Homo sapiens: one gene and its partner. The protein of the gene in region 1 purifies or fractionates together with the protein of each later gene. This does not show direct contact. Each region holds a gene or a part of one and is shown on either strand. Other genes may lie near its edges.

Evidence for each region.
Region 2: the proteins of CHMP7 (region 1) and ARHGAP17 fractionate together in Homo sapiens (co-fractionation; one large-scale study listed by BioGRID). This does not show direct contact.

The regions. Positions count from the first base shown.
Region 1 is NC_000008.11:23,256,960-23,260,772, forward strand, and holds part of CHMP7 (charged multivesicular body protein 7), read left to right. Parts: intron 1-1,073; coding exon 1,074-1,122; intron 1,123-1,370; coding exon 1,371-1,490; intron 1,491-1,772; coding exon 1,773-1,871; intron 1,872-2,106; coding exon 2,107-2,167; intron 2,168-3,184; coding exon 3,185-3,364; intron 3,365-3,578; coding exon 3,579-3,640; 3' UTR 3,641-3,813. UniProt on the Homo sapiens protein: ESCRT-III-like protein required to recruit the ESCRT-III complex to the nuclear envelope (NE) during late anaphase. Together with SPAST, the ESCRT-III complex promotes NE sealing and mitotic spindle disassembly during late anaphase.
Region 2 is NC_000016.10:24,938,583-24,942,395, reverse strand, and holds part of ARHGAP17 (rho GTPase-activating protein 17), read left to right. Parts: intron 1-252; coding exon 253-409; intron 410-2,798; coding exon 2,799-3,032; intron 3,033-3,813. UniProt on the Homo sapiens protein: Rho GTPase-activating protein involved in the maintenance of tight junction by regulating the activity of CDC42, thereby playing a central role in apical polarity of epithelial cells.

The DNA of each region.
Region 1 (3,813 bases):
TTTTTTATATTTCTAGTAGAGATGGGGTTTCACTGTGTTAGCCAGGATGGTCTGAATCTCCTGACCTCGTGATCCGCCCGCCTCTGCCTCCCAAAGTGCTGGGATTACAGGCGTGAGCCACCGTGCCCGGCCTTTTTTTTTTTTTTTTTCCTCAATTGAGACAGGGTCTTGCACTGTCCCCTAGGCTGGAGAGCAGTGACATGATCTTAGCTCACTGCAGTCTAACTCCTGAGCTCAAGCAATCTTCCCGCCTTAGCCTCCTGAGTAGCTGGGACCACAAGTGTGCACCACCATGCCTGGCTAATTTTTAATTTTTTGTTGAGATGGGGTCTCACCATGTTGCCCAGGCTGGTCTCACACTCCTCGGCGCAAACAAGACCCCCACCTCAGCCTCCCAAAGTGCTGGGATTACTGGGGTGAGCCACTGTGCCCAGCTGAAAACGTGAGTCTTAATGCTTCCCCCACAGACCATGACTGTGAATGTTATGTTTATGCTCTTCCTTGCCAGTGTCCATTCAACTAATATTTATTGAGCCAGGCATTGTCTTAGGGACTGGGGATACAGCCGTGGACAAGACAGGTCCCTGCCTTTGCAGAGGTCTTTCTGAGGGGCTCTTCCCCTGCCCTTCCCCCTGAATGACTGTACAAGGAATCCCTAATAAAGACACACCCTCTGGCAGGAGAACACAGACATTGAAGTCTGTCTTCCAGGTGGGAAAGTCTAGCCTTGTTGGGAGGCAGAGGATATGTCCGAGGTCATTGTTGGTGTTAACAGTTCCTTCCCTGTCTCCCCAAAACAGGAAGATGTGTATAATGTGCCCTGTTTGCATGTTCTGTCCCTGTGGGTTGAAAAAGCTTATCCTTAGTCAGCCTGCTTGAGCCTGCCACAACAGACTGTCAACAGACTTGCCACAAGAGTTTTTGCCGTCAGCATCAGTTTTCTTGCCACTGGGTATTGGGTTTAGTCTTCAGATTTAAAACCACCTTAACTGAGTGCTGCTCTCAGGGACCCTTTGGGACCCTGCCACTCCCATCCTGTGGCACAGTAATCTTATCTGTCCCTTTGTTTCCAGGTGTAAAGAAGAAGCCCGCCGGGCATGCCGAGCAGGAAAGAAGCAGCTGGTGAGTTCTTGTCTCCTCCAGACCCATAGCAGTGCCCCAGGCAGGCCTGGAGCAATGCCCAGCAGTTCAGAGAGCAGCTTGCTGGGGTTTTGAGGGGGGTAGAGTCTGCAGGGGGCCCAGGCACCACAGCTTATTTTACAGATGGGAGGGAAGAAAGCTGGGACATCCTTAGCGTCTGGGAAGGGCTGTCTTCCTCTTGCCCTTTGGCTCGCCCAGTTCAGCACTGACCTAAGTCTCCATGCCTCCAGGCACTGAGGTCTCTCAAGGCCAAGCAACGGACAGAGAAGCGCATCGAGGCCTTGCATGCCAAGCTGGACACTGTTCAAGGCATCCTGGACCGGATCTATGCCTCCCAGACAGATCAGATGGTAGTCACTCCCCTCTACTCCAGCACTTGGCTGGTCTCTCCGTGTGTGTTGGTCACTTGCAGCTTCGGCTTGGCTGTTTGGAGGATCCCTGGGTTCTTTCGGGATGTGGCTGGGGTTGCCTTTGCCTTTCCAGTCAGGAGGTTTGGCCTCGGTGGGTATAGGGTAAATTGAGCTTGGGTGCCAAAAAAAACACCCCAAAGCTGCCTTTTGGAGTTGAAACAATATTGTATGTATTTTGCCAAATGTCTGTCATTTGCACTGATAGCTTTGCTTTGTCTTTAGGTTTTTAACGCCTACCAGGCTGGGGTAGGAGCACTCAAACTCTCCATGAAGGATGTCACAGTGGAGAAGGCAGAGAGCCTCGTGGATCAGATCCAAGAGGTACAGAAAGGGGCCAGGGAGGGACACACAGAGAAGGAGGTGACAGAGGACAGATTTGACTTCATTGCACATCCTCTTTAACGAAACCTGACTTGTGACCTTGTGAACTTGAGGAAGCTTTCCTTGATTCTCACTTGGGGCAGGATTGCTTTGTAACCCTAGATATTTTCCACCAAAGACTGAGATGCTCAGAGCCACCATGCCCAGCTCAAGGCTTTGCACTTGTCTCTTACAGCTCTGTGACACCCAGGATGAAGTTTCTCAGACTCTGGCTGGTGGGGTAACAAATGGCTTAGGTGAGTGGACAAGGTGGTTATTTTTATTTTTATTCATTTTTTTTTTTTTTTTTTTTTTTTGAGACGGAGTCTCGCTCTGTCGCCCAGGCTGGAGTGCAGTGGCGGGATCTCGGCTCACTGCAAGCTCCGCCTCCCGGGTTCACGCCATTCTCCTGCCTCAGCCTCCCAAGTAGCTGGGACTACAGGCGCCTGCCACTATGCCCGGCTAATTTTTTGTATTTTTAGTAGAGACGGGGTCATTTTTTTTTTTTTTAGATGGAGTCTCACTCTGTCACCTAGGCTGGAGTGCAGTGACGCATTCTCGGCTCGCTGCAACCTCCGCCTCCTGGGTTCAAGTGATTCTCCTGCCTCAGCCTCCTGAGTAGCTGGGATTATAGGCGCCCGCCACCACGCCTGGCTAATTTTTGTATTTTTAGTAGAGATGGGGTTTCACCTGTTGGTCAGGCTGGTCTGGAACTCCTGACCTCGTGATCCGCCGGCCTCGGCCTCCCAAAGTGCTGGGGTTACAGGTGTGAGCCACCACACCTGGCCCAAGGTGAGTGTTTCTTCCTTTCATCCTGGAAGACTTCGCTTCCCTGTGCTGTGATGAGTTTGACAGTAGATTTGCTTTTCCGGGTGCAGGCAGGCCTCTCCTAGCCTGCCCTCCCTGGGGCTCATCTGCGGGAGCAGTCAGGGAATTGCCATTTCCTCCTCGACAGCTGTGCTCATGACCCATCTGTGCTGCGGCATTCCTCATTCACAAGGCTTCTGACTGGAGGATCCTCCTTCAAGGGCAGTGGGAATCAGGGTCAGGTCCATGGTGTTAACAGAATACACCTCCTTGGTGACTTAGCTTGGAGTGTGGAAGAATCATCTCTGCTTGAAGCTACCCTCCTGACTTCCGGGATTTTTTTTTAATCTGCAAGGAGGCCTGGCATCTTTTGTAAAGCTAAGCGGGTTTTGGTAACCTCAGTCCTGTACTCATTAATGCATTTCTCCCTTGAGTTTATGCATCTTTATGTTGTCTTTTCTTTCCAGATTTTGACAGTGAAGAACTGGAGAAGGAATTGGACATCCTCCTTCAGGATACCACCAAAGAACCTTTGGATCTGCCTGACAACCCCCGCAATAGGCATTTTACCAACAGCGTGCCTAACCCTAGGATCTCAGATGCTGAACTTGAAGCTGAACTTGAGAAACTGTCCTTATCAGAGGGAGGTATGGAGCTGTTTTCCAAGGCCTTTGGAGGGCATATGGCCTTCTGGCTGACAGAGTTGATGGGCCCAAGCCCAATTACTCCATTTGCCAGAGTACCAGAGCCCTGTAGGGAGTTGAGGGTTGTTTATATTAAGACTCAGTCTCTTAATCACTGGAATGCCTTCATCTTCAAGATTTTCCTGTTATAGTGTTCAGTCATTTCTTTGCCTTGCAGGTTTGGTCCCAAGCAGTAAATCTCCAAAAAGGCAATTGGAACCGACTCTAAAGCCATTGTAGGACCCTCAAGTGAAGGACCCTCATGTAAAAGAGAGACCAGGCTTGCTGGGTGTGTACATAGTTATTTAAACAAGAAACTCTCAGAATGTGTTTGGAAGAGGAGAAAGGAGAACCACTGATTTTATCTGGATGCTACTACTTACTACAGGACAGATAGAATTTCTGGAAGCGAT
Region 2 (3,813 bases), on another chromosome or scaffold:
ACAAAAGAGAAAGCACAAAAGTGTGTAACTTATATTCTGACCCATACTTCTTCCCCTGTCTTGTCCTCTTAACATTACTTCCCACTGGTTTGATGGACCATTCTTGCGATGTGAGTGCCTGGAGCTTCCACTTTGAAATAGTGAGGGCTGTGGACTGAAGAACGAGGTTCCCGTTCCAATGAGGGGTGTCTTAGAGCTCCCTCGCCTGCTGTGCTCAGTGTCTCATGCACTTGTTTATTTTTCCTCTTGCAGAGGTGGAATTTAATGTATCAGAAGCATTTGTACCTCTCACCACCCCGAGTTCTAATCACTCATTCCACACTGGAAACGACTCTGACTCGGGGACCCTGGAGAGGAAGCGGCCTGCTAGCATGGCGGTGATGGAAGGAGACTTGGTGAAGAAGGAAAGGTATGATTTGACCGTTCACTTCCAAACCAGCAGTAAATATGTTGTTAGACCCGTGGTATCTGGTATCGCTCAGTGGACTTGGGATTTGAGAGTGGTCGCCATCCACCCATGACTGATGGTGTCCAGATAGTTTCTGGAATTCTGCTGTAGGTCATTCCAAGCACTAATCTCACCATAAAGTCAGTGTGTAGCTTCTCAGTTAACGTTTCTTCCACGTGTATTCCAGCTTAACTTGGTGGTGTGCTTGGTAAGCCCTGCAGTGGAACGGCATCATACACATGTTAAAAGTGACCCAGATGTACGTGAGTGGGGGGAAACAGAAAGGAAAATAAATTCAATAGTGTGGACTTTTGTCCAGAATTGAGTGTGAGAACACCCACCTGGCACAGTGAGTTGAGTGATTTGGCGTTTAAGGAGACATATTTCTGGTATAATGTGGCCCCACAATGGAAGCCAACCACTGAATTTGATGTTCAGTGGGAAAAACCTCAGTATTTGCCAATTCTAGAAGAAAAAAAAATGGCAGTGTTGAACTTAGTGAGAAGCAGTGTGTCTCTATATACTCTTTTCTATGGGCAATTCATGGGATTTTCAAGGGTGATTAAGACTGTTTGTAATTTGTGCCTTTGGATGCCAACCTGTCCCATGTGTGTGATGAAATGCCACTGTACTCACTAGGAATGCTAACAGTTAAGAGGCCTGTTGGAAGTAATATGCTTTTCTTGGTATATTAAATAATACTACTAGAAATAGTTTTACATTAAAACGAAGTGACAAGCTCTTATTTTAATTGCTCAGTCTTATAGTGAGGTGTGCTGTTTGTTTCTTGTTCTTTGTATTGCATTTTTTACCCCTAGCAAAGGAGAATGCATTATTCTGTCCCTATTCTGTCCTTCCAAAATCCACATTTATTCTATGCAGACGTATTACCTCTCTGAACCCTCATTCATACATTCAGTAGTATTTCCTGATGACAGACTCTACCTGTAACAAAATTAGCTTTCATATATTTTAAGTTACAGAATACAGTGCATGAGTCTAGTTAGCACGTGACAGACAATTCTCAGTTACCTGCCTTGTGTATTCTCCCTGCCAGCTGACCCAGTAAGCACGAGCTCAAGAAGCCAGGTATCTTTTTACTTTTTGAACTGAAAGAAAAAGTTGTTAAGTTCATAGATCAGTCGCCTTAAGTGAAAAGTCAGCCTTCCTTCCACCCTCTCCAGCCACATCCAGCCACCATTCCCTTCCCCAAAGCAACGGCTTTTTCCAGTCTTTTTGGTTTTTGTTTTTTTGAGACAGGGTTATGTGCCCAGGCTAGAGTGCAGTGGTATGATCATGGCTCACAGCAGCCTTGACCTCCTGGGCTCAGGCAGCCCTCCCACCTCACACACCTGACTAGCTGGGACTATAGGCACGCACCACCTCACGCAGCTAATTTTCTAAAAAAATAGTTTTTTGTAGAGACAGGGCCTCACGATGTTTCCCAAGCTGGTCTTGAATTTCCAAGCTAAAGCGATCCTCCCACCTTGTCCTCCCAAAGTGCTAAGATTACAGGTGTGAGCTACCATGCCCAGCTTTTCCAGCCTTATGTACCTTTCACATGTAGTCTGCATATGCACATAGGATTGTTTCTACATCTCATCTCAGTTAAGAGGCAGTGTGGTGTGATAACCTTACACTGCCATTGGTAGGCCTTCTGGACTTGACTTCTGTGTCATTCCCCAAAAACAGATTTGAGATGGGAACTAGGAAGTATGGAAATAGGCCGGATGTGGTGACTTATGCCTGTAATCCCAGCACTTTGAGAGACCAAGGCAGGAGGAATACTTGAGGCCAGGAGTTTGACATCAGCCTGGGCAATGTAGTGAGACCGCATCTCTACAAAAAAAAATTTTTTTTTAGTATCCCAGTATGGTGATGTGTGCCAGTAGTCCAAGCTGCTCCAGAGGCTGAGGCTGGAGGATTGTTTGAGCCCAGGAGTTTGGCACTGTAGTGAGCTATGATTGCTCCACTGGAGTGCCAAGCACTCCAGCCTGGGTGGTGGAGTGAGACCACATGTCTAAAGGGGGAAAAAAACAGCAGAGGAAGTATGGGGATAAACACACTAACATGATGTCATTCAAGATGAGGCCTGCCTATTTGCTTTTAGCTGCTCACACCCAAATTGATCAAAGACATTGAACAGTACCAGGTTCATTGGCTTTGCTCAGGCTTGAAGCCGAGTGGAGTTGCTCAGGGGTGGCCATTAGTCTGGTCCTTGCCGCTTCACTGCATGCCGGGCAGCTTGGGTGGCTATCCCCATGTGTGGTTTTAACACATGTGGACCGATGGGCTTCTGTCTCAGTAGTCTGCTCGCATGGTGTGTTGACTGTTTCTTCTCTCTGTGTAGCTTTGGTGTGAAGCTTATGGACTTCCAGGCCCACCGGCGGGGTGGCACTCTAAATAGAAAGCACATATCCCCCGCTTTCCAGCCGCCACTTCCGCCCACAGATGGCAGCACCGTGGTGCCCGCTGGCCCAGAGCCCCCTCCCCAGAGCTCTAGGGCTGAAAGCAGCTCTGGGGGTGGGACTGTCCCCTCTTCCGCGGGCATACTGGAGCAGGGGCCGAGCCCAGGCGACGGCAGGTAAGGAGGCTGACTTCTGCTGGCAGTGGAGGCTGGACGCCCCAGCCTTCTTGCAGGTGGTGGCCTTTGAGCACGGCATCCATGCCCAAAGAACTGCTCCAGCATGGAGTGAACAGATTTACTTTCACTCCTCTGGTTGGCAAAAGATGGAAAAAAAGACTATGAATGGCTCGCTTCTTTTTATGTTTTCCAAAGAAAGCAACATTGGTTTGCATTCTTTGCCACACTGCTTTGGTGCTGGAAACCGGAAGCCAGTGGATGTCTCATAGTGTGATGAGCCTCTGTCACCTGTTGGATGTATACTGTCAGCATTCATGTACCTTCTGTTCATTGTCATCCAGTGTGCTAACCAGGAAGCATTTGAGTGTGGCAAGTTAGTTAAATTTTCGTATTCCTGGCATTTATTCACCCATTCGTTGATTGATTCAGTGAAACAGATTTACTGAGTCACTGATATGTGCTAGGCACATGAGGTGACTAAGACTCCACTCCACACCCCCAGATTTCAGTCTTGTAGGGCAGTTGATCCATGAGTCCAAGGTGGAAAATAAGATGGTAGCTTTTCTTTTTTCTTTTTTTTTTTTTTTTTTCTGAGACTGCGTCTTGCTCTGTTGCCCAGGCTGGAGTGCAGTGGCATAATCGTAGCTCACTGCACCCTCCGCCTCCTAGGCCCAAGCAATCCTCCTACCTAAGCCTCCCAAGTAGCTGGGATTACAGGTGCTTGTCACCATGCCCAGCTAATTTTTTTATTTTTGTAAAGATGGGGTAAACATAGATGCCC